Homo sapiens: one gene and its partners. The protein of the gene in region 1 interacts with the protein of each later gene in a biochemical or structural test. Each region holds a gene or a part of one and is shown in the gene's direction. Other genes may lie near its edges.

What was found.
Region 2: the proteins of RUNX1 (region 1) and COPRS form a complex in vitro, tested with the Homo sapiens proteins (one study listed by BioGRID).
Region 3: the proteins of RUNX1 (region 1) and USP10 form a complex in vitro, tested with the Homo sapiens proteins (one study listed by BioGRID).
Region 4: the proteins of RUNX1 (region 1) and DTX2 form a complex in vitro, tested with the Homo sapiens proteins (2 studies listed by BioGRID, with this or other methods).

What each region holds. Positions count from the first base shown.
Region 1 is NC_000021.9:34,828,605-34,836,658, reverse strand, and holds part of RUNX1 (runt-related transcription factor 1), read left to right. Parts: exon of another isoform or gene 1-346; intron 347-2,057; coding exon 2,058-2,249; intron 2,250-8,054.
Region 2 is NC_000017.11:31,855,642-31,863,640, reverse strand, and holds the start of COPRS (coordinator of PRMT5 and differentiation stimulator), read left to right. Parts: upstream 1-4,396; 5' UTR 4,397-4,441; coding exon 4,442-4,540; intron 4,541-4,678; exon of another isoform or gene 4,679-4,820; coding exon of another isoform or gene 4,821-4,883; intron 4,884-6,775; coding exon 6,776-6,842; intron 6,843-7,999. Other genes in the region: UTP6 (U3 small nucleolar RNA-associated protein 6 homolog), read left to right, coding at 125-282. UniProt on the Homo sapiens protein: Histone-binding protein required for histone H4 methyltransferase activity of PRMT5.
Region 3 is NC_000016.10:84,743,946-84,751,999, forward strand, and holds part of USP10 (ubiquitin carboxyl-terminal hydrolase 10), read left to right. Parts: intron 1-687; coding exon 688-1,728; intron 1,729-8,054. UniProt on the Homo sapiens protein: Hydrolase that can remove conjugated ubiquitin from target proteins such as p53/TP53, RPS2/us5, RPS3/us3, RPS10/eS10, BECN1, SNX3 and CFTR.
Region 4 is NC_000007.14:76,491,894-76,499,947, forward strand, and holds part of DTX2 (probable E3 ubiquitin-protein ligase DTX2), read left to right. Parts: intron 1-259; coding exon 260-360; intron 361-5,443; coding exon 5,444-5,584; intron 5,585-8,054. UniProt on the Homo sapiens protein: Regulator of Notch signaling, a signaling pathway involved in cell-cell communications that regulates a broad spectrum of cell-fate determinations.

The sequences.
Region 1 (8,054 bases):
GATAGAGCTCTCCACAATCATTGTTCCTGCCTTCTTCTTTACCCCAACTCGTAATGCCAGGCATTAGACTGTGGTAGGAGGTTAAAGGGCTGAGTTATTATGTTTTGAATGGTTGTTCCATTGGAATTGTTTGTTTTTCTGCAAGAAAACTGCAGATTTTTCAGTTTGATCATCAGGAAGCCAAGGATCTATGGCAGAGATAAGAGGAGGGAGGAGCTAAGGAAGGCTTCATCCAGAGGCACTGAGTCACACCATGGCTGACCAACACAGAGCGCTCTAGAAAAAAGACATTTTCATACTTCTGAGGGAAAGGGATGATGGGGGTTGCTGCAAGACCTGGCCCCATGGCCTTTCATCCACAAAGCCGGTGCTTAAAATACGCAGCCAAGAACAGGCCTCCCACATGCATGCTGAGCCTGCGTGACTCAGGCTGTTTGCGTTCAAGTCTCCTGTTGTGGGCTGGAGCGCTGAATCAGAGTCCAGATTTGCCTTGGTGACACATGACAAGAGGGGCCATTGCATTTGAACTACATAAATATTATGCTTAAGTGTTTTTCCTCATTTTGGAGCCAAACAGGTCTCGTTAATGATAAAATCACTGCAATATAGTGGGCCCTTTTTTTCTGGTCTGGAATTTGAGACAATGTCAACTGTGCCAAGGGGCCTGGCAGCAGGAAGAAATGGCCAGCCATGGAGATTTGCAGCCATCATGCAAGTTATACCATTTAATTTTATAATTGTAGCCATTGGGAGCTGGACTACAGTGCACTTCTCGTGGTCTGCTCTTACCCCAGGCTGCGGGAGTGGAATCAAGGGGGCCTCTTTCTAGTCTAGGATTGGGTCAGGGCATGTGAAATAGCACTTTATGGGGGCAGCGGGCAGGCTGTTTCTCAGTCTGGCTTTGGGGACATTTGGCAATAGGGAACAGAGGTTGTGCAATCGATCAAGGACTCTTTATTGGAACCATAAGGCTGAGGAAGCAGCAGGAGGCCATTGTCTTTAAAAGAGAAATGAATGGCCCAGGCCTCCTGTGGCTACCTCCCTACCTTGGAGCCTCAGCTTTGCACGACAGGACTGGCTCTGGTTTAAGGACATTTTGAGAAAACCGTAGGCCCCAGTCCCCCATGAGTGGCCTCTGCTTGCTGCTTCCTGGTGACGGTTGTTTTGGTGAAGAGCATGATGAGGACACTTGCTATCTATATAGACACTGAGGGGCCCACCATCCCACCCTATATAGACACTGAGGGGCCCATCATCCCATCCCACCAGTCCTGAGCCCCCTGGGGAAGCTCACCAGATAGGCTGTAGCTACCTCTGGGCTCCAGTGGGCCTATTCTGCTGGGAATATTGGACAAGACACAGGCGAGGCCTTCCTGTCAACTCCTCCTTAGGGGTACATGGGGGAGTCGGCTTCAGGGAAGAAGGAATGCTTGTGAAAAGCCTGTGAGGAGAGGGAGAGGGAGAGGGGCTGAGGGGCTGAGGATGCCCTGCGTGTACCTGGAAATGGGACCTCCCCAGAGGCTGTGGGTTTGCAGCCACGCCTCATTTCCTCTTGGAAGGGGCCCTACCACTAAGCTGCGGGGCCCACTTTGCCGCCTCTAAAACGTGCCAGTGGCTGGGTTTGCAGTAAGGAACAGCCGTTCTGATGCCCCTGGGAGGCCACCTTTCCTGGCTGCCACAGCATAGCCCCTGGCATGTGGCCATGTGCCAACAATTAATGCGCCTCTTTCCCTCCCGGCATCACCACCACCGCCAAGTTCTGTATCTCAGTGAGTTGTGCCCATTGGAAGTGGGTGTAGAGGGTTGGGGAGGGTGCCAAGGCCCAGACTGGGGGAGCACTCTGTGGCCGAGGCGGTGAAAGGGGGCCCATTCTGCTGAGAGGACAGTGGCCCCAAATTCAGCTGGCATATCTCTAGCGAGTCTATGTTGGGGTGAGGGGAGAGAGAGGGGAAAGACAAGAAAAGCCCCAGTTTTAGGAAATCCACAATACTTTTTCTGATCTCTTCCCTCCCTCCTTCCCTCCCCCCATCCCCTCCCCTCCCTGCTCCCCACAATAGGACATCGGCAGAAACTAGATGATCAGACCAAGCCCGGGAGCTTGTCCTTTTCCGAGCGGCTCAGTGAACTGGAGCAGCTGCGGCGCACAGCCATGAGGGTCAGCCCACACCACCCAGCCCCCACGCCCAACCCTCGTGCCTCCCTGAACCACTCCACTGCCTTTAACCCTCAGCCTCAGAGTCAGATGCAGGGTAAGTACCAGATGGAGCCCACTGCCCGCCTCTCCTGCACCTGGGCCACCACCCACAACTGGCCCCCATGTGCACACACCTTCCCAGACCAACTGGGGTTTCCCCTTGATGCTCAGAGAAAGGCCTCGAACCAACAGCACCACCTGGGAGCTGTTGGAAATGCAGAGTCTTGGGCCCCACCCACCCCAGACCCACCGAGTCAGATCTGCATTGTAACCAGATCCCCACAAGGAAAAGCACTGCTACAGAGGATACGAGGAGCTCTGGGTATGGATATCCATATTGGATAGATAGCTCTCTTGAATTTTTTAAGAGTTAGCTTTGGCTATGCTATTTTTTTACCTACCCATTAGGCTTGAAGACACACACGCAGACACACACACACACACACGTCAAGCAAAGTGAAGATGGGATGTTTCAAGTTCTCGCTATTGCCAGATTATTTGTGGGTTTTGTATCTAGTGTTTTTTTATTATTAAGAAATAGTTGAAATGTATGGATGTCATCACATCAAGGGTGTTATTTGCAAATCAATAGAGAATGCAGGTCCCCCCAGCCCATGGGGCTAGCTGGCAATTACTAAAGCGCTGTAAGATGCAATAATTGCCTAAGGCCCACTGTGCCAAATTAGATAATACAAGAAGTTCATTTACACTGTAGACCAGTGACGTCAATGACTGTTTGCTCTGTGATACCGTTTCAAAAATCCAAAATGCAGACTTTTCTCTGTGCCATGCAGGATGCAGCTGTGTGTGATATGGTTTACAGTAATATTTCTTTCTCAAAGTAGCAGGCTTGTTAAGGAAAAGATAAGCAACACATCTGGGGAAAAGGGCAGGTGGCCAGCAATCGATGTGGTAGCTCTTTGCCCCTCTCGGACAGCAGGAATTAGCTTCCCCAGGCATTTTCTGTATGTGAGTTGTATTGTGGGATGTACAAATATCATCTGTTCCTTTGGGTTTCCAGGCCAGTAGCTCTCTATTTTGGGTTCAAACATGGGTTCTCAGGCCGGGCGCGGTGGCTCACACGTGTAATCCCAGCACTTTGGGAGGCCAAGGCGGGCGGATCACGAGGTCAGGAGATGGAGACCATCCTGGCTAACATGGTGAAACCCCAACTCTACTAAAAATACAAAAAATTAGGCAGGCATGGTGGCGGGTGCCTGTAGTCCCAGCTACTCAGGAGGCTGAGGCAGGAGAATGGTGTGAACCCGGGAGGTTGGAGGTTGCAGTAAGCCGAGATTGCACCACTGCACTCCAGCCTGGGCAACAGAGCGAGACTCCATCTCAAAAAACAAACAAACAAACAAACAAAAACATGGGTTCTCAAAAGGCATGCCCACTGTCTCCCATGGAGCTTGACAGCCCATGCCATTAGCTCTCACTGTTAGGTTTCTGGGGAAGGTTCTTCTACTTGATTGGAAAATTTCCAAATAAATCTTTCCAGAAGATACTATGCACACAGCTAAGTGGCCTGTCTGTGGAGTAACCCTTTTGTAAACAAACAGAAACCTAAAGCTTGATGTTTTGGGGGGCTGCCTGTCATCTATAGGTTCATTTAGGTGTATTTAGGAAGAGGATCCATGAAACCACTGGTTTCCTGTTACATAATAATCATTAATAATGATTTAAAATGTGTACATTGATTTTTTTTAAATTCCAAAATACAAGCGTATATGGTAAATTAAGTCAAATGGTATGTTCAGTGAGCGAGATGGGCTTGGGGCAAAACAATACTTTGCTTCCAAAGAGGATACAACTCTCAAGGAGATTCTTTCATCTTGCCTTTAAGGTCATTTAAACTAATTCACATAATCTTCAGAAAACTAATTCACATCATCTATTCATGTGTAAAATCAAAAGGAAGACTGTTTTCTTAGTCTCTCGTTGCCTAACTGGCCATTTATACTACTAGGTTGATTAAGGGATTTGCCTTTTTCTGCTGATATGGGAACAAAAAGTCTTAAGCATTTTTAAAGGCAATGGAAAATTCAGCCACATGGGGGAAAATTGATATTGTCACCATTGAGTTGCTCTGTTTCTTGGTGAAGAGTGAATCTAATCTGATTTCCTTCTTCATCAGATATGCCTCTTTAACAACAAAAACAAAAAAATGGGGGGAAGTTGCACATTGAGTTCTCATCCTCTGAAGCTCCTGGGCAAAAGCATTATTGTGGACCGTGTGATGGGCATTCGTCAGCTCTTTGGAGACCTATATGCTTAGTAGAGTATCAGGTTTAACACTAAGCATCGCCCCTTTTTTGTTCCTCTTGAAAACTTTTACTTCTGCAACATTTAAGAAATCATAACTCGCTTTTAGAGTTCCTACGGGCTTGGTTGCTACTCTAAAGAATGTGTGAACTATATTGCTGGTGTTCTTTCTTTCCAAAATATGAATTTGATATTCAGTACTTCACTTGTAAAATTTTAGGAACAACTTTTAAAAAATAAGTATCCAGAATATTTTCATGTGAAACAACTTTTCCTTTTCCTTTTGTTCTTTCTTTCCTATAAGAAAACGCTGTTTTACGCTAATCATGTTTTGAGTAGACCCTTGGGCTTTTTCTCTTGAAATTGGAAAGTTAACAGGTATAATATGCAAGTCTTGTTCAGCCAAGACCTTCAGTTTGTTCTTGACAGTAGGAAAATGCTTATTTTCCAGGCTCAGCCCTGAAATTTCTATGTTATATTTACGAAGATACTTTAAGAAATACAGCATGTGTTTCTGGCTTTCTTTGAAATGGCAGTGGTAGTTTTCAGAAAAATATCCAATTTGTCAGAGTAGTTCCACAGTGGTGCTGTCCAGATGCATGAATGTTTTTCAGCTTTACAGAAATGTCAGTAACCGGGGGTTTGGCGAGCTTGCCGGGATTTATAGAAAGGCTCAGGAACCCTACCTTGCTAGGACTTTGTCAGAAGGGTTATGCCAGCTCCTCTGACTCTGTCAGCAAGAAAATACTGATATAGAATAGCACCAATACTTACCTAGAATCACATGTGCTGGAGGGTCACTCAAAATAGACATCTCAAATTATCTGAAGCACGGTACAGATTGAGAGGGGGCAAGTTGTCATGCCACTAAACCACTGTTTATTTGTTGGGGTCTTAACTATTAAAGGGCTGAGGTTTATTTCAACTTCCTATTTTACCAGGTCTTAAACTGGTAAAGCCATTTTGTCATGAAATAGAATAGAAAGCCATTTTGTCATGAGTAGACCCTTGGGCTACACGTTTCTCCCAGTCAGGACACCATCATTAACTTCTACGATCGAGTCTTAGAATTCTTTTTTAATTTATTTCAAAAGATAGAACAGGGCAGATTCTAGAGCTAGTGGTACCGATGCCTGTTCAGTCACAACTCCCACCTAGAGATGGGTTTGGGCAACCCGAGTGAGTGATTTTAAAATTTCACCCCTGATTGACCAAATATGATGTATCACATTTAAGGTGTCGTAATTTCCTCCTTTCTGGGAATATGAGGATGGAGTAATAGATGCTGGTACAGAAAACTGAAACCTAGATAAACTAGGAAGCCCATTTTGTTGTTCTTCTGCATGCTGGTTGTCATAAGCATGTAGGAAGAAGATTTAACTCTTTAACTGGACCAGTTGTGAGCTATTTTGACGTGGGTCAGACATTTGTACATATTATTCCATTCCCTCAACAATCCTGTGGTATCATTTATAGACAGAGAAATCGAAATTCAGAGGTTAAAAATTGCCCAGTATCTCAAAGATTGTAAGTGATGAACTTGGACGCAAACCCAGACCTTCCTTGCTACAAAGCCAGTGCAAGTGGGATGGCCGTTCCCTGGGCGTGCACTCTTGGGTCAAGGATCGATTTACTACAGGGCTGACCAGTGTCGAGAAGAATCCCAATCACCAAAGGAGGGATGGAAAAAGTGTTGGGCTATCCACTCACTTGGCATTCTTGTATTGAACATGTTCTATTATAATTAGATGTTGATAATAAGAAGAATTTTGGGGCCAGGCTGTGTGGTGGGCACCTTAATAAACTGTCTCCTTTGGTACATGTGCATTTGTTTATAAAGTTTGGGAGAAAAGAAAACTCAGAATAATGAATCTCTAAATAAGAGTGAAAGAGGGGGTATATGAGCAGGGAGAAGGCTTACCAGCCACTCTGTTTACTTTATTGGGGCCATTGCCTTCCTACTTTTGAAGTTCATTGGGACCAAGTGCTTATCATCCAAACCCAGTCAACATCTAATCCACTTTTATGAGTATGCGTGCCTCACTTTGAGTGTTCCATATGGCCAAGAGGGGTCCCTGACCTCTCAAATCATCTCTTGATTTTTAGTATTCCAAGTAACTTCTGTCTTGCTAATTATTTTCCCCCAAAATTAAAGTTACTTAGGAAGGACTATATTCTGGTGCTGCTGTCTGCAAAACTCTGAGATACTGAAATGACCCTGTTTCTCAGTTGTATAGAGTTATTTAAGTCCGTCTGATTCTCTCTTTATCATCTGGATAGACAAAAGGAAGAAAACCTTTCCACCTTCCTGTAGGAGAAGGAGATAAATCCTCTTTCCAGCCTTGGAGGTAAAATATCCAACTGCATTGCATTGCTTTCCTTTCTCTCTCCCTCTCCTTCCCTCTCTTCCTTACTCTTCTAGCAATTTGAAGTTTGAAAACAAAGGGAGTAGGGACTATTTGATTACCTTGAAAGTGGAGGCTACAATCAAACACCAGAAATCCTCATATGTGAATCTATAAATGGTCATTTAATGGTTACACAAAGTAACATATTCAGAATGTGAGAAATTAATTTATATAATAGGCTATAAACATGACAGGTGAATGATTTCATTTAAAAATAGCTTTTAACAAGGTGTAGTAGGGTATGAGAGCCTTTCCAGGTCTATAGCATTATAATCTTACCCCGACAACAAGCCTGAATCAGGTGTTCACAGGAATAAATAAAAATAATTAAAGGAAAGAAGGGAGAGAGAGAGAAGAAATGAAAACCAGTGGGATGACTGCAGAGATTCACTGCAGGGCTTGATCTTAGTGATGAAATATTTCTTCTGTAGACTGCATATGTTCTGAACTTTCCCCTTATGCTTGTAAATATGTAGGCCAGCACACCCATGCACTAAAAGGTTTCATTTGGAAGATTAATAGTTTCAGCAAAGTTGTAGTTGGAGCATGTATTTGATATTGATGGCTACATATCAGAAGGCTTGAGCTGGGAATCTAATAGCCAAGAAAGATAGCAGATCATAGTGGCTAAGAAAGAATGAGGGCTCAACAGGCAGACTACCTTAGTTTCTACCACATTCACTATAGGACTTTTGGCAAGTTACTTAACCTTTTAAAGCCTTAGTTTTCTTATCTGCAAAAGACGAGTAATAATTATACTAGCAGATCCTAGGACCACTGTGAAACATAAAGCAGTGGACATTAGAGCCAGCCCATGGTTAACACTCAAAAACTGTTAGCTGTTATGATCAACATCAATAATATCAAGTTGTCGTAGTCTTATATATTATAGACTGGGTAATATATAAAGAAAAGTTTATTCGGCTCATGGCTATGGAGGCTGGGAAGTCCAAGAGCAAGGTGCCATCATCTGCTGAGAGTCATCCCATGGCAGATAGGTGGAAGGGCAGAGAGCATCTGTCAGAGAGCTCACTTTTATGACAAAGCCACCTCCATGATAACTAACTTACTCCCTCAATGGTAGCATGAATTCATTTGTGAGGATGGAGCCCTTATGACTCAATCACCTCCCAAAGGCCCCACCTCTCAACATTGCCATGATGGCAACCAGGTTTCCAACATATGAA
Region 2 (7,999 bases), on another chromosome or scaffold:
AGCGTCCTAGGGAAGTAACAATGAGAAGTTAAGTTTCTTAGAAATCTTGAGTTGAATTGATATTTAATAAGGTTACCTAATAACACTCTGTCAGTTATCTAATTGTATGTTTTTTTTTTAAAAGATCTTTGGATGGATTATATGAAAGAAGAATTGAACCACCCCCTTGGTAGACCTGAGAACTGTGGACAGATCTACTGGCGAGCGATGAAAATGTTGCAGGGAGAGTCAGCAGAGGCATTTGTAGCTAAACATGCTATGCATCAGACTGGCCATTTATGAAGATGAAGAATACAGTCAGCTTTGTGAAATAGTATTGCAAGCAAGCCCCGTGGGCAAATTTGTATTGAGTCCATCTGTAATTTGCTCAGTGATGGCAGACAAGATGGCTGTCTGGTTTTGAGACACACTTTAATTTTATGTTAACTTGTTAAATCTTTTTAAAAATTAAAAAATTTTTATGATTGAGACTGGGTCTTGCTCTGTTGCCCTGGCTGGTCTTGAACTCCTGGACTCAAGTGACCTTCTCACCTCAGACTCCTGAGTAGCTGGGATTATAGGTGCATGACACTGCTCAGTTTGATGTGCTAATCTGATTCCAGTAAAGAGAATTGCTGATTTAATGTTGAGGCCCGATCTTCCACAGGTCCTAAATGTTTCCCAAAATACATGGATAGCATACGACTGGGTTTTTTTAAAATTATCCCAGGTCAAGCATGAGTATCTCTAATCTCGACCTAAGAGCCAGTTAAAATGAAGGAGAAAGTGGCCAGGCATGGTGACTCAACGCCTGTAATCCCAGCACTTTGGGAAGGCTGAGGCAGGCGGATCACCTGAGGTCAGGAGTTTGAGACTAGCCTGGCCAACATGGTGAAACCCCGTCTCTACTAAAAATACAAAAATTAGCCAGGTGTGGTGGTGGGTGCCTGTAATCCCAGCTGCTTGGGAGGCTGAGGCAGGAGAATTGCTTGAACCTGGGAGACGGAGGTTGCAGTGAGCCGAGATCATGCCATTGCTACTCCATCCTGGGTAAGAAGAGCGAAACTCCTTCTCAAGGAAAAAAAAAAAGGAGAAAGTACAGTTTTGTTGGTTTATTCTCATTATAAAAGATACGTGGTATGCATTTGTTCTGGAAAATATGGAGGAAATAGAATAGTGTGGTAAAAAAAAGCATCCTGTCACTGGGAGAAGCTTTCAGTGTAGCTTATTGTTACGTTTCACTTAGTATTGTTTTTCTGTGTCATTAAATAGCCTTAAAAACATTTAATGAATTCGTAACATTACATTGTAAAAATGAGCCATAATATATTTTACTAATCCTCTGGTTAGACTGTCTTTTTTTTTTTGAGATGGAGCCTTGCTCTGTCATCCAGGCTGGAGTGCAGTGGCTCCATCTCGGCTCACTGCAACCTCCACCTCCCGGGTTCAAGTGGTTCTGGCTCAGCCTCCCGAGCAGCTGGGTGGGATTACAGGCACCCGCCACCGCGCCCAGCCAATTTTTGTATTTTTAGTAGTGCGGGGGTTTCATCATATTGGCCAGGCTGGTTGCGAACTCCTGACCTCATGATCCACCCGCCTTGGCCTCCCAAAGTGTTGGGATTACAGGCGTGAACCACTAAGCCTGGCCTGGACTGTCATTTCTAATTTTTTTAAAAATTAGATAAATGCTGTTGATGAAGATTCTTGTCAATCTTTGTTCACATCCCTGGCCATTTCCTTAGGAGATTGACATCCGACAGTGGAATTACTGGATCAAAGGATACTGCTTTTAGAGAATACTGATATGTATTGCTGGTTTGCTCCTTCTTTCAAGCAATACATGAAAGTGTCAGTACCCTTACCTGTACTGGTGTAATTATATCTTTTATTTTTACCATTTTATAGGTGAAATGTGATATGTCATTGTTTTACCATACTTTGATATTAGTGAAGTTAGTGTATTTTATGTTTCTCATCTTTTTACATCCTTAGACTATTTAAAAATTTTTTTTCTTACTAATTTATGAGTTAATTTTTTTTTTTAAATTGGACAAGTTCTTGCTTTGTCACCTAGGCTAGAGTGCAGTGGTGTGATCATGGCTCACTACAGCCTTAACTTCTGGGCTCAAGAGATCCTCCCACCTCAGCCTCTTGAGTAGCTGGGACTGCAGGTGCACACCACCATGCCTGGTTAATTTAAATTTTTTTTTGTAGAGACTGGTCTTGCTATGTTGCCAGGGCTGGTCTCTTAAACAGTTGGGCTCAAACAATCCTCCTACCTCAACCTCCCAAAGTGCTGGTATTATAGGCATGAGCCATTGTGCCTGGCCAGAGTTTTTAAAAACATATTCAGAATATTAATATCTTGTTTCTCATTTGTTGCAAATAATTTTACCCCCAGCCTTGTTTGTGGTGATTTTTTTTTTTTGAGACAGAGTCTTGCTCTGTGGTCCAGGCTGGAGTGCAGTGGTGTGGTCTTACTGCAACCTCTGCCTCCTAGGTTCAAACAGTTCTCCCTGCCAAAGCCTCCCAAGTAGCTGGGATTATAGGCACCTTTTGTGGCGATTTTTGATGCCCAGAGGTATTTTGTGTGTGTATGTGTGATGTCTGTTTTTAAAATGCTTTGGAAGCTCTTCCTGGTGCTGAGAACAACTCTTTTTCCCCAAGCAGTTAATTTTGCCAACACTATTTGGGCAGTTATGTTTCTCTCTGCTGATTTGTGATGTTACCTTTATTATATATTAAATTTCTATGAGTATTAGAGTCTACTTTAGAACATTTTTATTTTAAGCTTTTGTACTGTTTTCTTTTTCTTTCTGGTTTTTTTTTTTTTTAGACCAAGTCTCACTCTGTCGCCCAGGCTGGAGTGCTGTGGGGCAATCTCTGCTCACTGCACCCTCCACCTCCCGGGCTCAAGTGATTCTCCTGCCTCAGCCTCCCGAGTAGCTGGGATTATGGGTGTGTGCCACCACGCCTGGCTAATTTTTGTATTTTTAGTAGAGATGGGGTTTCACCATGTTGGCCAGGATAGCCTTGAACTGACCTCAAGTGATCTGCCTGCCTCGGCCTCCCAAAGTGCTGGAATTACAGGAGTGAGCCACCGCGGCCAGCCCCTGTTTTCTTGTCATTTGTTTTAAAATAAGAAAAAAATTCCTCTTTTTCCTGTCCCTTAAGTCCTGGGATGTTTAACATTCTTAATCTTATTTGGCACTTTAATTTTACGAAAGAGATATGTAGATTAGGGAGCAAAGAGGATAGTGGTAGTCTCCTTAACACAAGGCTATAAGGGTGGTCACCTGGGGTCATCACATCCCTGTATCTGATTCTCAATATTGCAGGTTATGAAAACACATCTAGCTAGTACACCTAGAGTTGCACTGTTAGAAACAGTAGCTCCAAGGCACATGTAGCAATTTAAATTTATTAGAATTATTCAATTTATTCACATTGGCCACATTTCAAGTGCTCAGTAGGTATATGGTTACTATATTGGACAGTACAGATAGTAGAACTTTCATTTCCACTTCCACCATTAAAGAACGTTCTATTGGACATTGCTGACCTAGAGGCAGTTAGCCTTGGGGATACTGACTCCTGTGTAGGAACATCTACATATAGAACAAAAATAATATCGAATATTGTGTGTCAGTTTTATGCTAAATTTTTTCAAATGCCTTTTGTGTTGTACAAACAACACAGTCTTTGAGGGGGATGAAGGAAGAGGGTCTCATGTCCTGATGTTGACGTGATTAGCACACCTTGAGCTGGTTTGTTATTAGAGGTTAGGCACTGTGGGGAAGGCAGGGAAGGCTGTCTTTCCAGTTGGGCTGTTCCCAGCTCAGGCCCTGCCTATCCCCAGAAGCCACCTTTCGAGGCAAAATGGGAAATAATTAGGTTGTCGGTATCAGGCGTTGAGCATGGAAATACAGGAATCCCGAATGTTCAGGATTATTATGAGTAAGCGTCGTGGCCTGTATTCTGTGTCCACTGCATATTGCAGTTTGTGTCTTAATCATCTATCTTGGTTTCTAATGGATTAACTTCAAAGACGATCATTAGCTCAAGGTGGAGGTCACTGGGTTGCTCATGTGTCTTACCCACGCGGGGTTTTGAAGCTGGAGCACACCCCGAGTGGCCGAGTAGGGTACGCTTGGCGTTTCACACGCAGCTAGTCGTGCAGCCTTAGGATATGCACCGAGAGGAGTTTCCAAAATCCGTCTCCGAGATTGTTTCAGATTTCGCGCTGGGAGGGAGGGGCGGGCTCCGCGAGGCCGCGCGCCCCGCCCCCTGCGCCGCCCCGCCCCCGCTTGCTCGTGACACCCCCGCGCCCCGCCCTCTTGGCCGGTACCCACCCCCTCCCCAGGCTGATTGGCGCTTCTGCGGCGGATCCTCGGGCGGGCAGCCGGGCCGGCGCGTCACGTGGCCCACGGCGTCCAGGGCGACCAGCCGCGGGCCGCAGGGCATGGACCTTCAGGCCGCCGGGGCCCAGGCGCAGGGGGCCGCGGAGCCGTCTCGGGGCCCGCCGCTGCCTAGCGCGCGGGGGGCGCCCCCCAGCCCGGAGGTGAGCGCCGCGTGGGGGCCAGGAGCAACAGCCAGCCGCAGCCTGGGGCGGGAAGTCGCGGGGCCGGGCTGGGCGGGGGCCGCGGGGCCGGGGAAGCGCCTCTGGCCGGCCTCGGGCCGCCCCGCGACACGGAGCGCTGTTTGGGCTCGCGCTCGAGCTGAAAACGGCCAGGCCGCGGGGCCGCGGGGCTGCGGGGCGGGGAAAGCCGAGGGCGTGGGTGGGCGCTCTGGGTCAGCAGAGACGGCTGTCCGCCCGCTGGGCGCCGCTGCGGATTTGGTAAATGGGAGGTGACGCTGGTGACCGAGAGCCGGGGCCCGCTGCCAGGAGCCTGGGCGAGGGCCAGGTGAGGGCGGCGAGGAGAGGGACTTGACTTTACAGACCTGTGGACCTCTGTCCGTTGGTGGGGATGCCAGCTAACCCTGAGCCCCAGATGTCACATGCGCGCTCCCCCTTCTCCTTACTGAAACCAGAAAGGCCCTGTTTGACGCAGGGTTTCCAGAAACTTGTTTTCATGTAAGCTAGACAGCTCCTGGTTTTCCCGAGAACGTTACAGACCGTTATTACAGTTCTTACCTGTCCTTGTTTACAGTCTGTACCGGCTAGGTGCTGAGCGGCTTGAAGGTAGGAACCCTCTGTTAGGGCTGTTTGCACAGCCTAGCATAGTGCCTGGCACAGGAGATAGACATACCGACTGGATGAATGATGCCTCAAAGATGGTACTTAGCCAAAGTAAGATATGAAAAATGCAGCGACACTTACAAAGAAAATTACTTTGGAGTGCAGAATAGAATGGGACTAATTTTGTCAGGGCATAGCAGGAAAGGATCAAGGTGAGAGGCTGGTGGTGTCTGCAGAGGCGTGGAGATGAGAAAGTGCAGGGCACATGGCCTGGAGTTGGGTCTCAGAGCATGCAGAGAACTATGCTCAACAGGTTGATGGGAGTGGGAGAAGAGGGGACGTGCGAATGCCATGGCTAATTTTGTGCTCTCTCAGTGGAGGGCTGTTGAAGGTTTTGAGCAGAGTAGTGATTAATTCTGTAAGGCTGGGCCAGATGGCTGGATGGGAAGGTGGTTAGGAGGCCGTGGCAGTGGTTTAGGTGAGAGGTCTGACTTCTCCTTGGGCGGCAGTGACCAGAGGTTGTCACTAACTACAGGGAGTGGAACTGAATTATTAAACCCAGACATGACTAGATAATGAATGCTGATTGGAGCAGGTGCCGAGTACAGTTTAGATGTAGCAGAAAAGATGAATTTAAATTCAAGAAATGTTACATTCTTGCCACATGCCAGGTGTTTTCATAAATGGTGTCTAATCATAAGTCCCCTGCAGGGTCAGAACAGTCACCCCTAATTTCTGGAGAAGAAAACTCAGGCACAGTAATTGAAGTGATGTGTTCAAGGTCACACTCTGAATGGATGGCAGAGCTGGGATCAAAATCAGGTCTTTTATGCAGGCAGGGAACATTTCGTGATTCATTAGAAAGAGGTCTTGGAGGTCATAGGGTTTCAGGAACTTCTGAGTGATGGGAGCAGAGAAGCATTTGGTTGGCTGTGCGGGAAGATTTTCAGTTAGATTAGAAATACTGCCTTCAGTGCTCAGCATTGCAGAGGAATTATAAAGCTTCCCCCACCTCAGTGTGTTGGTGAGGAAACAGAGAATTTGATAGAGTTGTTTACTAGCTATAAAGTTGTTAAGTAACTGAAAAGGTAAAACGTGTACCTGGGGGTGGCAACCGCAGGGAACAGCTACCAACCTATGGCTGAAGGAACAAAGAGATGAAGTTGATTAAAATTTAAAAGCTTAGGGAAAAGGCTCTGCAGAGCTGAAATTCCAACCTTTAAGGAGAAGGCACTGCCCCAGCTGATGGTAGGGGGTCTCTGAGCTTGGAGGAGAGTCCTGAGACCCAGACCTCTAAAGAGAAGGTGCAGTGATAAGACTGGCTCTGCAAGAGTTCGCAGAACTGTATACTGGATTCTGTGGCCACTATAGGAAGGCATTCCTGCTGCCACGGTGAAGTGTCATGAGGTGATGCCTACATGAATAGGAAGGAACAAGGCCCATCTCCCTCCAGCCTTGCTCAGTTTAACAGGGCAAAGTAGAAATGTGGGTGGCAGAGTCCCAGCCCTGCATCACCAAGGGGAGTATGGAAGAGTGGGTGGGGTTGAGATGCAATAGCTGAATACTGGGCATACCCCAGATACCCAAGTCCTTGGTAATCATTTCTTCTTCCTGCAGGCTGGCTTTGCTACAGCTGACCACTCCAGTCAGGAGAGAGAGACTGAGAAGGCTATGGATCGACTAGGCAAGTAGATGGCAGAGACGGAAGTTGGGGAGACCAAGGATGTGAGGAGAGGAATAGTCCCTCTGTCTCATTTACCTTCTCTTTTAGCCAGTCCTCTCTGCTGCTTAGTGGCCTTCTCTGCCCAGTTGAACAGTAACCTCCTTTGGAAGCCTTGCTTGGAGCTTCCTTAAGGGAAGTCCTGAACTTTTCTTATGTTCAAATCCATCCTTCTACCGAGAGAAACAGCTTGAAACGGTGAAAATAGTACAGCAGTCTCACCTTATTCCTAGGGGATACATTCTAAGACCCCCCCGCCCCAATGGATGCCTGAAACTGCTTTTTTTTCCTCCTATATATACTATTTCTGATATGGTTTAACTTATAAATTATGCATATGTGATTAATAACAATAGTAATATAGAACAATTATGCCAGTATACTGAAAGTTACGTGAATGTGTTCTCTCTCAAAATATCTTTTTTTTTTGAAACGGAGTCTCGCTGTGTCACCAGGCTGGAGTACAGTGGCACGATGTCAGCTCACCGCAACCTCCGCTTCCCAGGTTAAAGCAATTCTCCTGCCTCAGCCTCCCGAGTAGCTGGAACTACAGGCACGCGCCACCACACCCAGCTAACTTTTGTATTTTTAGTAGCTATGGGGTTTTACTATGTTGGCCAGGCTGGTCTCGAACTCCTGATCTCAAGTGATCTGCCCACCTAGGCCTCCCAAAGTGCTGGGATTACTGTGAGCCCACGCTCCCAAAGTGCTGGGATTACAAAGGCATGAGCCACTGTGCCCAGCCCCCTGCCGTTTTTTTTTTTTTTTGAGAGGGAGTTTTGCTCTTGTTGCCCAGGCTGGAGTGCAATGGCACAATCTTGGCTCACTGCAACCTCTGCCTCCTGGATTCAAGCATTCTCCTACCTCAGCCTCCCAAGTAGCTGGATTACAGGCATATGCCACCATGCCCAGCTAATTTTTGTATTTTTAGTAGAGATGGGGTTTCACCATGTTAGCCAGGCTGGTCTCGAACTCCTGACCTCACCTGATCCATCTGCCTCAGCCTCTCAGAGTGCTGGGATTACAGGTGTGAGCTACCACGCTTGGCCCCTTTTTTTCTTTTTCTTTTTTTTTTTTGAGATGGAGTCTCACTCTGTCACCCAGGCTGGAGTGCAGTGTCG
Region 3 (8,054 bases), on another chromosome or scaffold:
GGGCCATTTTTCAGACTTAATTGAAGGTTACCAGCGGAGGAGACCAAGAGATAGAGAATTCAGAAGAGTGCTCTGAAGTGCGCTTTTATATATAGGATTCTTTGTTGTTGTTGTTGTTGTTGTTGAATCTTTTTTTGACATCTTTTTTTTTTGTTTTTAAATTTATACTTTCTAATTTCTCCTATCCAGTATGTATAGGATTCTTTGCGTAGTTCATGTTTTTGGAATTAATCAAATCACGTTAACTACAGAAGCTGATTTAACCATGTTTTAAGTCCCTAAGTTAGTTGTCATGATCTTTTAAAATTTAAGTTGTCCAAAATACATATTCCTTTATCTCAGGCATAAGGCAGCTATAAGAAAGTCAGATTCCACTGGGGGGTATTTTTAAAATTGGCAAAATATTACTTGCTTTTTATTACAAATTTATTTTAATTTCTACCTTCTGAAAGCCTTCCTTAGCTAGAAAGATAAGTACAGGCTTCTGCTTTTCATATCCCCAAATTAAATAATAATTTTATAGTTGTTTCATTTTCCGCAAATTGTTCAGCGTAAGTAAAGGACGTAATAGATTTGTTGATTAGGAAGAGAACTTAAGGTTTTTATTTTCAAAGAGAAAGTGAGTAATTACTGGTACTTAGAGTTTGTAGAACTGGGTTCTTAACTAATAGTTTTCTTTCTAAACAGGACAAGAATATCAGAGAATTGAGTTTGGTGTCGATGAAGTCATTGAACCCAGTGACACTTTGCCGAGAACCCCCAGCTACAGTATTTCAAGCACACTGAACCCTCAGGCCCCTGAATTTATTCTCGGTTGTACAGCTTCCAAAATAACCCCTGATGGTATCACTAAAGAAGCAAGCTATGGCTCCATCGACTGCCAGTACCCAGGCTCTGCCCTCGCTTTGGATGGAAGTTCTAATGTGGAGGCGGAAGTTTTGGAAAATGATGGTGTCTCAGGTGGTCTTGGACAAAGGGAGCGTAAAAAGAAGAAAAAGCGGCCACCTGGATATTACAGCTATTTGAAAGATGGTGGCGATGATAGTATCTCCACAGAAGCCCTGGTCAATGGCCATGCCAATTCAGCAGTCCCGAACAGTGTCAGTGCAGAGGATGCAGAATTTATGGGTGACATGCCCCCGTCAGTTACGCCCAGGACTTGTAACAGCCCCCAGAACTCCACAGACTCTGTCAGTGACATTGTGCCTGACAGTCCTTTCCCCGGAGCACTCGGCAGTGACACCAGGACTGCAGGGCAGCCAGAGGGGGGCCCCGGGGCTGATTTTGGTCAGTCCTGCTTCCCTGCAGAGGCTGGCAGAGACACCCTGTCAAGGACAGCTGGGGCTCAGCCCTGCGTTGGTACCGATACTACTGAAAACCTTGGAGTTGCTAATGGACAAATACTTGAATCCTCGGGTGAGGGCACAGCTACCAACGGGGTGGAGTTGCACACCACGGAAAGCATAGACTTGGACCCAACCAAACCCGAGAGTGCATCACCTCCTGCTGACGGCACGGGCTCTGCATCAGGCACCCTTCCTGTCAGCCAGCCCAAGTCCTGGGCCAGCCTCTTTCATGATTCTAAGCCCTCTTCCTCCTCGCCGGTGGCCTATGTGGAAACTAAGTATTCCCCTCCCGCCATATCTCCCCTGGTTTCTGAAAAGCAGGTTGAAGTCAAAGAAGGGCTTGTTCCGGTTTCAGAGGATCCTGTAGCCATAAAGATTGCAGGTATAGTTGAAAAGATACAAATCTAGAGTGAAGATGGGAGCAGACCTCATCAACTGGGCTTATAGACTGTGGTGTTACCCATAACAATGGCAGATTACCTGTGTGTTAATAGCAACGTCTGAAGGATGCCTATGTCTTAAATGTTCTCTAAAAGTAAGATAATATAGAAACAAATGGGAGGAGAGGGTTGTCGTAACTTTATGTTAAGTGAAAGATCCATGTCTGTTAGCAGTTCTTTTCTGTTGACAAGTTACATTTCCATTTCTTGCCTTTTGTTCAAGTAATTCTGCTCCACGGTATGAATGTATAATGGACTTTTTCTGTGATATACCTTTGGTATGATAATCCTGATTTGTACTCACTGTGTGCTCCTTTTTTATATTTCTTAAGATACAAGAAATCATTTTGTGAAATAACATGGTTTTTTTTTTTTGGATTGAGTAAATGGATTTTATTCAGAATTTTGATACACCAAGGTCAGCTCTTGAAGAGAAAAAAAATGTTAAGGGTTCAGCCCAAAGTTAATGTTTTATTTTAGAGTGCTAAGGCTCCAAAGTAGAAACAATTCACAATAAAAATAGAAAGCTGCATAATTCACAGATTGTTTTTAAAAAGTTACAGTAGGAAGTCAGAAATGCAGCAGGGTATGAAAGAGGTATGTGTCCTCACATAGCCACGTGTTGCTTAACTAAGATGGATATGTGTTCCGAGATGTGCGTGTTAACATCAGAGAGTACTACACAAATACAGGTGGTAGAGCCTTAGGCTGGTGGTGCAGCCTATTACTCCCGGGCTGCAAACCTGTCCAGCGTGTTACTACTGAATACTGTAGGCAGTTGTAACACAGTGCTAAGTATTTGTGTGCCTGAACACATTTAGACATAGAAAAAATATAGTACAGATATGGTATAAAGGATGAAAAGTGCTTCACCTGTATAGAGCACTCACCGTGAATGGAGCTTGCAAGACTGGAGTGGCTCTGGATGGGTCAGTGATGAGTGCTGAGTGAATGTGAAGGCCCAGGACAGTACTGAGCAAAGCCGAGTTTTATAAACAGTCAACACTTAGGCTGTACTACGTTGATTTACAAATTTTTCCTCAATAAGAAATTAACCTTAACCTACTGTAACTTTTTTACGTTTTATTTTACTTTTAAATTAAAAATTCTAAACTTTTTGACTCTTTCATGAGAACATTTAGCTTAAAACACACACTACAGCTATACAAAAATATTTTCTTCCTTTTTATTCTTACTTTCCTATAAGCTTTTTCATATTAAAAATTGTTTTTAACTTTTTAAACTTAAAAAGTAAGACACAAACATTAGCCTGGGCCTGCACAGGGTCAGGAGCATCAAGACGCCACTAGGCGGCAGGACGTTTCAGTTCCACTAGAATCTTGTGGGACCATCATACGTGCGGCTCATTGTTGACCGAAATGTTACGCCGCGCGTGACTGTACGTACCTAAGAAGCAGAAGCTGTGTCATCAGGTTGGATTCCACCAAGCCTGGTGACCAGATCTTCAGATTGTCACCCTAGTAGCCAAGTTAAAATAAGCTGTTTGGTTTAGGCTTTCTGTAATACTTTCTGATGTGACCTTTTGGAACACCTGACACCCTTCATTACCAGGATGTAGCAGCAAGCTGCCAAATGCACACCCTTCGATGGATGGTCAGAATTGTGTAAAAAATAAAACACATTCTTTGGGTGGCAATAGGGTGATAGCAAGCAATGTATATATATTTTTAAGAGTATTTTATTCCTTATACAAAATACATTATCTCAGGTACTCTTGTTGTTCTGAAGTTCTCTTAAATGAGCAAATGATAGGCCAGACGTCGTTATTTTGGGCTTCATATATATTTTTTAAAGCCAGGTGATTTTTTTTTTTTTTTTTTTTTTTTTTGAGATGCAGTCTCACTCTGTTGCTCAGGCTGTAGTGCAGGAGGCACGATCTTGGCTCACTACAACCTCCGCCTCCTGGGTTCAAGTGATTCTCCTGCCTCGGCCTCCCAAGTAGCTGGGATTACAGGCACATGCCACAATGTCTGGCTATCTTTTTTTGTATTTTTAGTAGAAATGGGGTTTCACCATGCTGCCCAGGCTGGCCTCAAACTCCTGACCTCAAGTGATCTGCTCGCTTCAGCCTCCCAAAGTGTTGGGATTCCAGGTGTGGGCCACCGCACTCAGGCCAGGCGATTTCTTGAATACAGCTTTCAGAATGTATTTATTGCAAGGACTGATACTGTAGGTGGATGACAAGGTCAGGAGATCGAGACCATCCTGGCTAACACGGTGAAACCCCGTCTCTACTAAAAAAAACCTAAAAATCAGCCAGGCGTGGTGGCGGGCGCCTGTAGTCCCAGCTACTCAGGAGGCTGAGACAGGAGAATGGCGTGAACCTGGGAGGCGGAGCTTGCAGTGAGCCGAGATGGCGCCAGTGCACTCCAGCCTGGGCGACAGAGCCAGACTCCATCTCAAAAAAAAAAAAAAAAAAAAAAAAGATAGATTGTGTAAGCCTTTATATAGATTACTAAGTTAAAAGTTTATTTTTAACCTATAATGAGAAATGCATGGTGGGGTCCTGTTAAAAATGTGCATTCTAAGTTCGAAGTCATGAGAATTTTATTTTCTTTTCTTTATTTTTGAGAGGGGGTCTCACTCTGTCGCCCAGGCCGGAATGCAGTGGCGCAATCTCGGCTCACTGCAACCTTCTCCTCCTGGGTTCAGGCAATTCTCCTGCCTCAGCCTCCCTAGTAGCTGGGACTACAGGTGCCTGGCACCACGCCAGGCTAATTTTTGTATTTTTAGTAGAGACCGAGTTTCACCATGTTGGCCAGGCTGGTCTTGAGCTCCTGACCTCAAGTGATCCTCCTGCCTCAGCCTCTCAAAGTGCTGAGATTACAGGCGTGAGCCACCGCGCCCAGCTGAGAATATTATAGTTTCGTTTCTAAAATTGCTCCACAAAGGAAAACCTCCCATCTTAGGGAGATTTTCTCTATCTTTATTTAAAATAACCAAGAAAAGCTTCATTTAAAATGTTTTAGAACATTCTACTTAGTCATATGACTTTAAATATAGTTTGATAAATAGTTTGTTATGTTCTGTATATGTTAAAGTCTAATTGAAGTAGCTTTGTCAAACACTGAAAGTAAGGGCCTCTTAATGACTGGTAGTAGAGGAAAGCCTTGCCACACACAGTCCACGTAATTATTTTTGTGTGGACATATTGTAAACCCCTACCAAACAGATTATTTTTTTAATCCTATTTGGTTAGGTCAGTTATGAAGATGTTTTAATTTTCTGAGCAAAAGTGTAGTTTCTTTAAAAATATATAATTCTTTTCAGCCTGTTTGTTGAGGCTTCGATAGACAGAACGTAGTTGTTGACAGTTTCAGGAGTCTCGTGAGATAGTAGAGCAATAGAGTCACATTGAATAACCCTTGGGATCATATAGGGCTTAGGGAGAATGGCATTGTTTGAAATTTTTTTTGTTGTTTTATTCTCCTACTTAGGGATTTACTTTATAAAAGTGGTAAAACATACTCAGTTTGTTACAAGTCAGATCCACTACCACAAATTCCCTTTAGTGGGCACACTTTTAAGTGTAGGCCCACTTATTTTAAGCAGCGTTTAACTGAGTGAAAGTCTAGTTTCATTAAAAGATCTGTTGATGTGGGTTATAATAGAGTTTGACTTGCATTAGTATCTAACTGTTTCTACTGAGACAGTGGTATTTGTGTTATTAACTTTTGGGAAAGAGGGAGTAGGGAATGATTTAGACATTAAATGTATTCCTTTCTGCCAGGCATGATAGTGTGGAGATTGAGGCTTGAGGCTCGATAACTTGAGCCCGGGAGTTCGAGGCCAGCCTGGGCAACATACTGAGACCCCATCTTTAAAAAAAAAAAAAATTATACACACACAAAATGCTTGGAATAATTTGTGTATTTTTTATCTCAAGTTTGTTTCAAATACTCACATTTCTGGACTATTTCCCCTATTGTTAAGTCTGCTTAATAAATGCCAGCTAGTTTTTATGCCATCAGAAGTGAAATTAAGAAGGCAGATGGACTAAAAGAATCACGTATAAGGGATTTTGAAGTGAAATACATTAAACTCTTGATTACTCTTAAACTATCCACTTTAACGGGTTCTACTTGGACCTTCTTGGTGGCAAGGCCATCTCCTCGGTGTAGGTTATGTGTCAACATTTTGTTCCATTGGCTGTTTTTCAAGTGTGAACTGTTATTTGAAAGGAGAAGGACACGCCAGGGGAGAGCGTGTGAACTGAATACTCAGTGATTTCCTTTAGCCCCAAGGGAAGGATGTATCTAAACACAAAAGCCCTGTCTTGCCGAGGGTTGGAGAGGGATCTGTGTTTCAGTGACTGGTCTGAGAGGAGATGGTTGCCATTTATCAGTAGGAGTCAACAAAAGGAAACTTAATACAGCCCGGCACAGTGGCTCACGCCTGTAATCCCAGCACTTTCGGAGGTTGAGGTGGGTGGATCCCTTGAGGCCAGGAGTTCAAGACCAGCCTGGCCAACATAGGGAAATCCCATCTTTACTAAAAATAAAAAAATTAGATGGACGTGGTGGCTCATGGCTGTAATCCTAGCTACTGAGGAGGCTGTGTCAGGAGAATAGCTTGAACCGGGGAGGTGGAGGTTCAGTGAGCCCAGATCGTGCCACTGCACTCCAGCCTGGGCCACAGAGTGAGACTGTCTCAAAAAAAAAAAAAAAAACCCAAAACTTAATAGCTTGTGTTTGAAAGTAGTTGCAAAACGCGACACCCTTGTTAAGAGTGAGTATGGCAGACACGTGGGGAGTGCCTTTGCTGCTGCTTCCCTCATTAGCACAGATACTTTGGAGTTGACGAACATGTGACGTTTGAAATTGAACGTATGCTTTCATTGAACATTGTACTTTTCCTGGGTCTTTACTAAGGAACATTCCTCATATACTAGACGAAATTGTATCAGATGCTTTCACATCACAAATAGAGCCATTTTGTATTTGATGTTTTGCTTTCAAAATTATGCAACAGTATATTTTGTTTTAACAGAATATAAATAATGCTGGGTAAGAAGAGTGGCCAACTGCCCGATAAGTTAAAATTCCAGTGAGAGAGAACTAGGAAAACTGAGCTCTTGAACAGCTCTGAAAACATTGCGTTGAGGTATCTAGCAATGTCATTTATTATGAATTGTTAGTCAAAACCTGTTTATATGATTTTTCACAGTGGTTTTATACCTAAAAGGCATTGGATCAAGAAACAAAGTTATTACAATTTGGGTCTTCTCTAATGAATTACCCTGTCCGTGTTTATTTAAGTGTAAATGAACATACAGTTATGTGCTGCTTTAATGATGTTTCAGTCAACAACAGACCGCATGTACGACAGTGGTCCCATAAGATTATAATGGAGCTAAACAATTTCTAGTGACCAGTGAGTTGTGTTACAGTTGCCTACGGTATTCAGTACACAACATGCTGTACGGGTTTGTAGCTTAGGAGCAATAGGCTCTAGCATATGGCCCAGGTGTGTAGTTGGCTATACCATCTAGGCATGTGATCCCACAATGACAAAATTGCCTAATGCCACATTTCTCAGAACATATCCCCATCATTAAGCATGGCTGTGTATCCTAAAACTGATCTTTATTTTGGCAGTTTATAAATCATGCATATATTTCCCCCCGCTCCTTGGGGGAAATGGTTTCTCAGATATTTTGCACTTCCTCTTCAAACTCTGAAGTACACAGGCAGTGGTCATGCGGCGTGATCTAAGTTAAAAAGGCGTGGCACCTGTTTACCGGGATCCACCCTTGTGGACTGAGAGTTTAGTCCACATCTGATTCGATGTTTGTAGCCTCACATTTATTATACATCTTTCCACTTCAGAAACATAAGTTGATCTGTAGTCAATGGGTAGTGGTACATTTTGGTCACTTTGCTGTCCTCCACCTGGTTAGATAACCAAGATAGTGTGTGTTCTTCCAAATTGATGGTAATGAGGAAAAGAAAAGCACTTGGAGAATGTTCTGGACAGTTAGAATGATGACAGAAAAGCAGGTCAACAACACCAGAATGTCGATTACGGGCCAGTTATTGAGCCCTAAGAATCAGAGTTCTGTACCTTGCATTTTCAGGGATTTTCAATGTTAATATGACCCCTAAGTCCTAATTTTAGGAAAACAGAATTTGATGTGTAAAATATGTGTAAGAATAATCATAGCTTATGATGACATAAAAGTTTACGATGCTGGTATTGCCTTTGAGTTGATAAACAATTTCAGTGGGCTGATTTGTGGCAGCCCTTG
Region 4 (8,054 bases), on another chromosome or scaffold:
CAAACTCCTGGCCTCAAGTGATCCTCCCACCTCATCCTCCCAAAGTGCTGGGATTACCGGTGTGAGCCACCACACCCCTCCTGAGTCTCTCTGAATTGCCCAGGAAAACAAAACCAAAGGCCTCCACACAGGCACCCAAGGAGCGTAAAAGCGCGAAGACACCTCAGTGACTCCCACTTGGCCATGACGCAGTGTTTCTCCAGCTCTCGTTTCCAATAAGTCAGCGGTGTGCAGTAAGCTCTGCTCTTTTCTCCCCCAGTGCCTCCCTCCCCAGCGGTCCCTCAAGCAGCCCAGGGAGCGTCCCTGCCACTGTGCCCATGCAGATGCCAAAGCCCAGCAGAGTCCAGCAGGCGCTCGCAGGTAGGTGCCTGACCTCGGGCTGCAGAGCAGTCTGTGCCCTGCGGACTTGGTGGGGAGGAAATTGTGATGTGGGGCCTTGTCACCCTCTGGATCCTCAGGGAGAGCCAAAGGGGCTCCCTGGGGGAGCAGTGCCTCTTTCTGGTGATGGTGTCACCCCAGAGTGAGCCCAGGTGCCCCTCCTTTTGCTCTCTGGGTACGTGGGCCTGATGACGGTGGGCGCTCGGGTGCAGACCTTTTCACATCCTTTAACATTTTTGCATTGAATTGCATTATATTTAAATAGTCACTTTCCTGTCCTGAAATACTTTAAACATTTCCTTAAAGGGGCCCTCTGGGGAATTAATAGATCTATTTCGGCTGTAGTTACTCTTACATCTTGAATAAGAGGCACCTTTTGGGTCCAACCAGATCTTTTGCTGTACTAACCATACATCTTACATCTTGGAACTGTTTTGGGTTTGGTTTGGTTTTTTGTGAGACAAGAGTCTCGCTCTGTCACCCAGGCTGGAGTGCAGTGGCGCTAACCCAGCTCACTGAAGTCTTGAACTCCTGGGCTCAAGCAATCCTTTCACCTTAAGGATCCTTAAAAATACCTACTGCTGGCCCCCACACCCATTCTGTTTTAGCAGCCTGGCTAGCAGGGTTTTCAGAAGCTCCACAGGTGGCAGGATTTTTTTTCTTTTTTCTTTTTTTGAGATGGAGTCTCTCTCGCCCAGGCTGGAGTGCAGTGGTGGGATCTCGGCTCACTGCAACCTCTGCCTCCCAGGTTCAAGCAATTCTCCTGCCTCAGCCTCCCGAGTAGCTGGGATTACAGGTGCATGCCACCACGCCCGGGCAATTTTTGTATTTTTAGTAGAGATGGGGTTTCGCCATGTTGACCAGTCTGGTCTTGAACTCCTGACCTCAAGTGATCCATCCGCCTCGGCCTCCCAAAGTGCTGGGATTACAGGCATGAGCCACCGTGCCTGGCCATTTTTTTTTTCTTGTTATAAGAGACAGGATCTTGCTCTGTTCCCCAGGCTGGTGTGCAGTGGTGTAGTCATAGCTCACTGCAGCCTCCAACCCCTGGGCTGAAGCGATCCTTCTGCCTCAGCCTCCTGAGTAGCTGGGATTACAGACACATGCCACCATGCCAGGGAAGTTTTTTATTTTTTGTAGAGACAGGGTCTCACTATGTTGCCCAGGCTGGTCTTGAACTCCCAGGCTCAAGCCGTCTTCATGCCTTGGCCTCCCAAAGTGCTGGGATTCCAGTCATGAGCTGCCACGCCCAGCTGAGGTTATTTTCTAACTTCTGGAAAGTTCGAGGTATGTAAGGAGGTGGATGGCGCCATCGTTGTTCACAGGGTGATGTGGCGGAATTCAATAATGAGTTGGTGTTTTAGGGGAGTTGCTGTCATAGTGGCTGAGAGGGGACAGGCCTGGAGGTAGGGCGGCTGGTGCAGAGCCTGACCTCAGACCTGGGGGCACCAGCCAAGGCCTGACCAGCTTCGAGGCAGTGGAGTGGAGGGGGAGGTTTGGCTTGAAACATTCAGAGGCATGAGCCGTCAGGCGGGGGGTTGTGAGGGGGGATTGGGGGTAGACTGAGGCCTGCTGGAGTGCAGCCAGTCACAACTGAGGAGCAGCCTGGGGCTTGGCGTGTGTGAATTCATTTCGTCCTTAAATCACTGAGGTGGAGGCTTTTGTTCCCATTTTCATTAGAGGAAACTGAGGCTCGGAGAATTTAAAAATTCTCTGCCAGCCCTTGGCAGAGCTGAGACACAGCCCCGGGCCTTCTTGCCTATGACGGTTCAGTGCTGCTGAGTCTAGGGGGAGGTTGGGAGGGGGTGATGGCTGTGGAGTGGCCGTTGGAGCTGTTCCGGGGCAGTGGGATTTGGCTGTGGGCCTCAGAAGAGCAGTCTTGGGTGGAATGGGGTGCCCCTGACCCCTCGTGGGAGCGTGTGTGCCACAGAGACCGTGGGCAGGACTGAAGAGAAAATGAAGGAGCGGCCAGAGAGGTGGGGGCAGGAGGGAGAGGAGCTGGAGTGGGGCAGGGGAGACAGAATGAGCAAGACACACTGGCCAGAAAGTCCCTGCCCACTGAAGTCACCGTGCGGCGCCGTAGGGAAATCACAGTGTACCGTGTGTGCATGTGCGGCCGTGGTGGCATTGGAGACAGGTTGTGGGTAAACAGACGGGGCCCCCACACGGTTCCTCATGGCCCAGCTCCTTCCAGTTCTGGGGCTCTCGCAAGCCTTCGTGGCCAGGCCTGACAGTGAGCGACCTCTGAGGCCATGACACAGATCTAAGTGCTCTGGGTGTGGAGTTAGCACCTGCCCCCTTCCTCTGCTCTTGAGGCTGAAGGTCCTGTCCAGGCTGTGTCCCAAATTGTCCATCCTGTTGTCTGTCCCCGTTGCTCTCAGAGCAATCCTGGAGCTAAAGCAGGTATTTTAACATCCATTTTACTTGTGGGGAAATAGATTCGGGAAGCTGGTTCAGGCCTAAGGAAATAGGAGAGCCTGGAGGCTGTGTAGACTCCTGCCTCCCCCAATTCAAGGCCCAGTGTTGGTACCTACTGGGGGAGCATTGTCTAGGGGAGCAGGGAATGAGAGGAGCCTGGCCAGCACCCCGGAGCCAGAGCTGGAGAGCAGTGTCCTGTCACCCTGGTGTGCTTGTGGGTTGAGGAATTATACCATGCCCGGCTGCGGAGACGAGCGTTTGCGCACAGGCTTTTTGCAGAGAGGTTTATAACCAGGAGGTCATGCTTTGGAAGGACTGAGTGCTGGAGGCACTGCTTCCAGGTGACAGTGCCTCCAGGTGACAGCTCCCCTGGCTGTGGCATAGCCCAGTCCCTCTATCGGGTGGGGGCAGGGACTGTGAGGCTGGAGCCAGGGTCTCCACCCCTCACCTGGTCACAGCAGCGGTCCATCCACAGCTCACACTGCTGCCTGGGGCAGGGATGGGTGTCAGCAGCCTGCCCAGGACTGCTCAGCTGGTGAGGGCTGGCACTGGGCTCGAACCCAGGCTGGGGAGGTCAGAGCGCACAGAGGAGAGGCTTGGATCTCAGCCCTGGCCCTGGGTGTCAGAAGGAGGGGTGTCTGCAAATTGGAAGTGAGAATCAGTGAGTGGGGGCTTCACTCTTCAGGGCTCTGACAGCGGGAATCCTCCCAGATGGGTGGAGAAAAAGGCTGTGGCCCTCCGAGTTATTCAGGTGTTTTGGGGGCTGTCAGGAGTTTGGGGGGCTGTCCCTAGCCCTCCTCCTCTCCAGGCTTCTGGGTTGAAACTTGTGTGTTTGTGACTTGAATTCAGGGGAGTGGGTCCTGCATTGAAAAGGACACGTGTGTCACTCATGCGGCCTCCTGGGGGCTGGTGGTGGCCCAAGGATGTCTTCATTCCTCAGCAAACACAGAGGGCTGCAGGCTTCCCAGGGATCAGGCACTGCCCCAGCGGGGTGCTGGAGATGCAGCTACGGGTGGGACCTCGTGGAACTCGTGCTGAGGGAAGACAGTCCATAGAAACAGAGGGGAGTGCAAAGCAGGAGTCCAGCAGGGTGGGGCGGGAGGCTTGGAGGGACAGGCCCCGTCAGGCAGTGTTCAGGGAAGGCCTGCCCGCTGAGGCAGTGTTGCCGGAGAACCCTGGGTAGGGAGACGTGTCCTGGCCTTTGGTCCTCCCAGACGACGTGGGCAGCGCAGAGGCACCAGATTCTCTTGAGGAAAACTGCACCTGTCCTTGTCCTCTCTCATCTCTCTGCCACCCGCGCCCGCTTGTCCTTCTCTCCACCCGACATTCAGTTCCCACAGGAACCGCATTTGAGCCCAGGAACAAGCTTGGGATGTTGGGGGCATTGAGCTCCCGGGCTCAAACCTCTGTCCTCTGATGCACGCTTTGGTGTCTCCTGCTGAGGGCCACTGCAACTCACCCTGCCCACCTCGGCTCTGCTGCCCAGGCTGGTGGCTGGTCTCCGCTTCTGTCCCCACAGCCAGGCACATGTGCCGGGTTGAGAAGCTTTGTTCTTCTAGTGGGGGCGCAGTGGCTGGCCTGGCCGCCCTTCACCCCTGAGTCACGCCATCTGTTCCTGGATGGGGAGTGGGGTCCAGGAGGACTGGGATTTCTACCAACTCCCCCGGCAGCCGGCTGTGCCCAGCTCCTGAGCCAGGTTCTGCAGACCCTGGAAGCCACCTTAAGAGATGGCTAAGAAGCTCTAGGCTTCCCCTTTCTCTGGAGAGGAGGTGCTTTTGACCTAACTGACCGATGACAGGGAGGACCGGGGAGCTGGCACTATGGAAAGTGGGGTAGGCCGAGGGTGTGGCAGGAACGGGTTCGTCCAGCAGGACACGCTGTGTCCCAGGAAGCGCTGGGTCATCAGGGAGCACGAAGGAAGCAGTGTCAGAGGAGAGTCCCCCAGGGCAAGTGTGGGGTTCCCTGCAGGCATCCGGCAGTGGTGAGCTCTGGAAAGAGTGGCCGGTCTGTCCCAGCATAGCTGCTGGCCACAGGCCCACCCTTGCCCGAGGGCGCCAGAGCCACAGCCTGGGGCCTTGCTGCAGCCCAGCCCTCACAGTATGGGGATGCTGCAGTGTGGGAGCAGGCCCAGGGGCCACGTTCCTGCCCGCCTACCCCAGCGCTGTCGCTGAAGGCCCTGGCACCCAGATCAGCCAGGAGGGGCATGGAGCACACACAGCACCCAGTGGAGGCTGGAGGCCTAGTAACTCCAAGCCAGGAGGGCCCAGGGCCTCCTGGGGAAGCTGAGCCCTTGGAGCCAGCCCCACCCAGGAGACCCCGTGCCCCGGGCGGCTTCCTGGAGTGGCGTCCTCCGCCCTCTGCTCTCCTGAAGTCACGGGTCCTGCCCCGGTGCCCACCTGCACACTGAGGGCACGGGCTTGTCTGTTGCTCCTATAGAAACCTGTGGGCTCTGGGGCCAGGGCTACCATGAGCCAGGCTGCCCCACCCTCTGATTCCTGGCCTGGGTAGTCCCCAGGGAGACCTGTGCGTCCCCGTGGCCATTGATGGTGTCACATCCTTGGCCTGAGCAGGGTTTGTTGGCGTCACATGCCGAAGGAGTCTTCTAATGTCTCTCCCTCTCTGCGTGTCTGCTCTCACACCCGTGCAGGCATGACGAGTGTTCTGATGTCAGCCATTGGACTCCCTGTGTGTCTTAGCCGCGCACCCCAGCCCACCAGCCCTCCCGCCTCCCGTCTGGCTTCCAAAAGTCACGGCTCAGTTAAGAGATTGAGGAAAATGTCCGTGAAAGGTAGTTCTTGTTCCCAAAAGCTCTCTGGCCTTTGCTAAGCCTCCTTCCGGCCTCGCTGCCTCTGACTCTTCTGCACAGACCCTCTTCCTTCTCTCTGCTCCCTGACTCCTGGGGGAAGGGGCTCAGTGGCCCTTCTCCCTGCCCCCGCTCGGCAGCAGAGGCGGCCCCTGGAAGCTGACTTTCCACCGCAGCCCCAGAGTTCAGCTCCTCTCCTCCAGTCACAGCTGGCATGAGGGGGCTTGTTCTTGAGGACTTTGTGATTTTTGTAAGCAACAAGTTGTGGGTGAGAGGCGGCGCCCGGCTCAGGATGCGGGGACAACCGTCCCTTCCGCCAGGGCCAGCACGTGTCTCGGGAAAGGCCCCCAGACAGCGGCCCAGGTCTGCTGCCCAGGTCTGCTGCCCTGACCCCCAGCCCTGTGTGGCCGCCACGTGGGCTGCTTGAGAGGGGTCCCTCGGTGACCCCTGCCCTGCTCGTTGCATGGCCACAGAAGAAGGGGCTTTAGGACCACAGCAGGTCCAGGGAGTTACAGCAAGACCTGCTCGGAGCAGCCTGTGATGGTCAAGTTCTGAACCTTTCCCAAGCGGGTGCTGGCCCTGCTTCCACCCCTGGGCTGTGGAAGTGTGGACTGTGGCCAGTCCAGACGCTCTTGAGTGGGCGTGGTGGCGGGCAGGGAGGGTGGCCGTGGCCCTGCTGGCCCTCAGTGTCTGTGTCATCTCAGCAGGTCCTCTCGGAGCCTCCGCTTAGCAGAGGGGCTTGGCGAGGTCTAGGAAATACTCGAAGCGCCTGGCATGCGGCAAGGGTGGCTTCCGATCGTGTCCGACCTCCAGCCCACAGGCGAGGAGGTGGGCTCAGGGAGGGGTGGGCCTCGAGCTCCTGCCCCCAGCCCAGGGCTCTGCACGCCCTGCCCTTCCCCTGCCCTGGGGGAGGAGCCAGACTCGTTGGCAGCCCGGGCTGGCAACCTTCTGTGGCACTCGGGTTTACCTGGGAAGGACACGCTCTTGGTGGGTCGCCTGGCTGGCCCCTTCTGAGACACGTGGCTAATGGAAAGCTCCCTTCTGCTCTGAAAAGCTGCAAGGGCTGGGGTGGGTGGGCGGGGGTGGGATGCTGTGCCCGGCCTCACCAGGGCTGGGCAGAGGCGAGGCCCAGGCTCACCCGGAGATGGCTCTGGAGTTGGCAGGCTTTTCCAAAGGAAAAGGCCCCCCTCAGCCTGAGTAGGGCATTCCAGCCACACGGAGGGCGACCCTGAGCTGGGGGCCATCGTTCTGGTCTGGCGTTCTCGCCACCGTGACAGGATTTGGGTTCGGGCAGTCTGTATGGGTGTGTGGAGGTGTGGGGTGTGTGGGGTGTGTAGAGGTGAGGGTGTGTGGGGTGTGTGGAGGTGAGGGTGTGTGGGGTGTGTGGAGGTGTGGGGTGTATGGAGGTGTGGAGTGTGTGTGGAGTGTGTGTGGAGGTGTGGGGTGTATGGAGGTGGGTGTGTGGGGTGTATGGAGGTGTGAGGTGTGTGGAGGGGTGAGGTGTGTAGGGTGTGTAGAAGTGTGGGGTGTGTGAGGTGGGGTGTGAGGTGTGTGGAGGTGGGTGTGTGGAGCTGTGTGTGGTGTGTGGAGGTGTGAGGTGTGTGGAGGTGTGGGGTGTGTGGAGCTGTGTGGGGTGTATGGAGGTGTAGGGTGTGAGGAGGTGTGGAGGTGTGGGGTGTGTGGATGGGGGTTGGGGGGTGTGGTCTTGCCAGCAGTTTCCCTCCAGGTCACAGCAGCCATGCCATCACAGCAATTCCAGCTTGGTTACATATTCGTCTTTCCCGTTTGAGATCAGGGAACCGAGGCTCAGAGGTGGCATGATTCGTTCACAGCAAGAGAACTAGAATTAAACAAACCGTGCCGACTCCAGCCTCCACCCCACCACGCCACCTCCCTGCCAAACTGTCCCCTCCCTGGCCCTTTTTGGTGTAAAGGGAGTTCAGCAGGTGCAGTTGTGAGCCCTCAGGCTTAGAATTCTCTGCAGCCCCTGAAGGCCGTGAGCTTGGATTCAAACCAGAGCCCCTTCTGGTCCTGGAGTCTGGGACGACCGCAGCCCCACCATGACCTTGGGGTGGAGCCCCTGTCAGGAGCGCCTCCACGGGTGGCACTGGGCTCCCCGTCCCTCTTTCACCCCCGCACGGGCTTGGCTGCTGGCTTCTGTGGTTCTGCTACTCCCACTACCTAGAGAACGCCCCGGGCCGCGCCGATCCTCACCAGCTCAGGAGCTTCTTGTCCGTAGGAGAGGCTTTACTGGATGTGGGGTTCGGTGTTTATGGAGATGCAGCCCTTCTCCCTCCAGCTTCGTGCACGTGTGCACAGACAGCGAGTGAGGCCGTCAGGGTGGGCTCCTGCCACGTCTTGGCCCCTCCCCAGAGTCGCTGGACTTAGGAGCTAGTCTGCATGTGACAGACCTTCCCAGTCAGTGGCAGGCGTTTCCCGGGACAGTGTCTGTGTG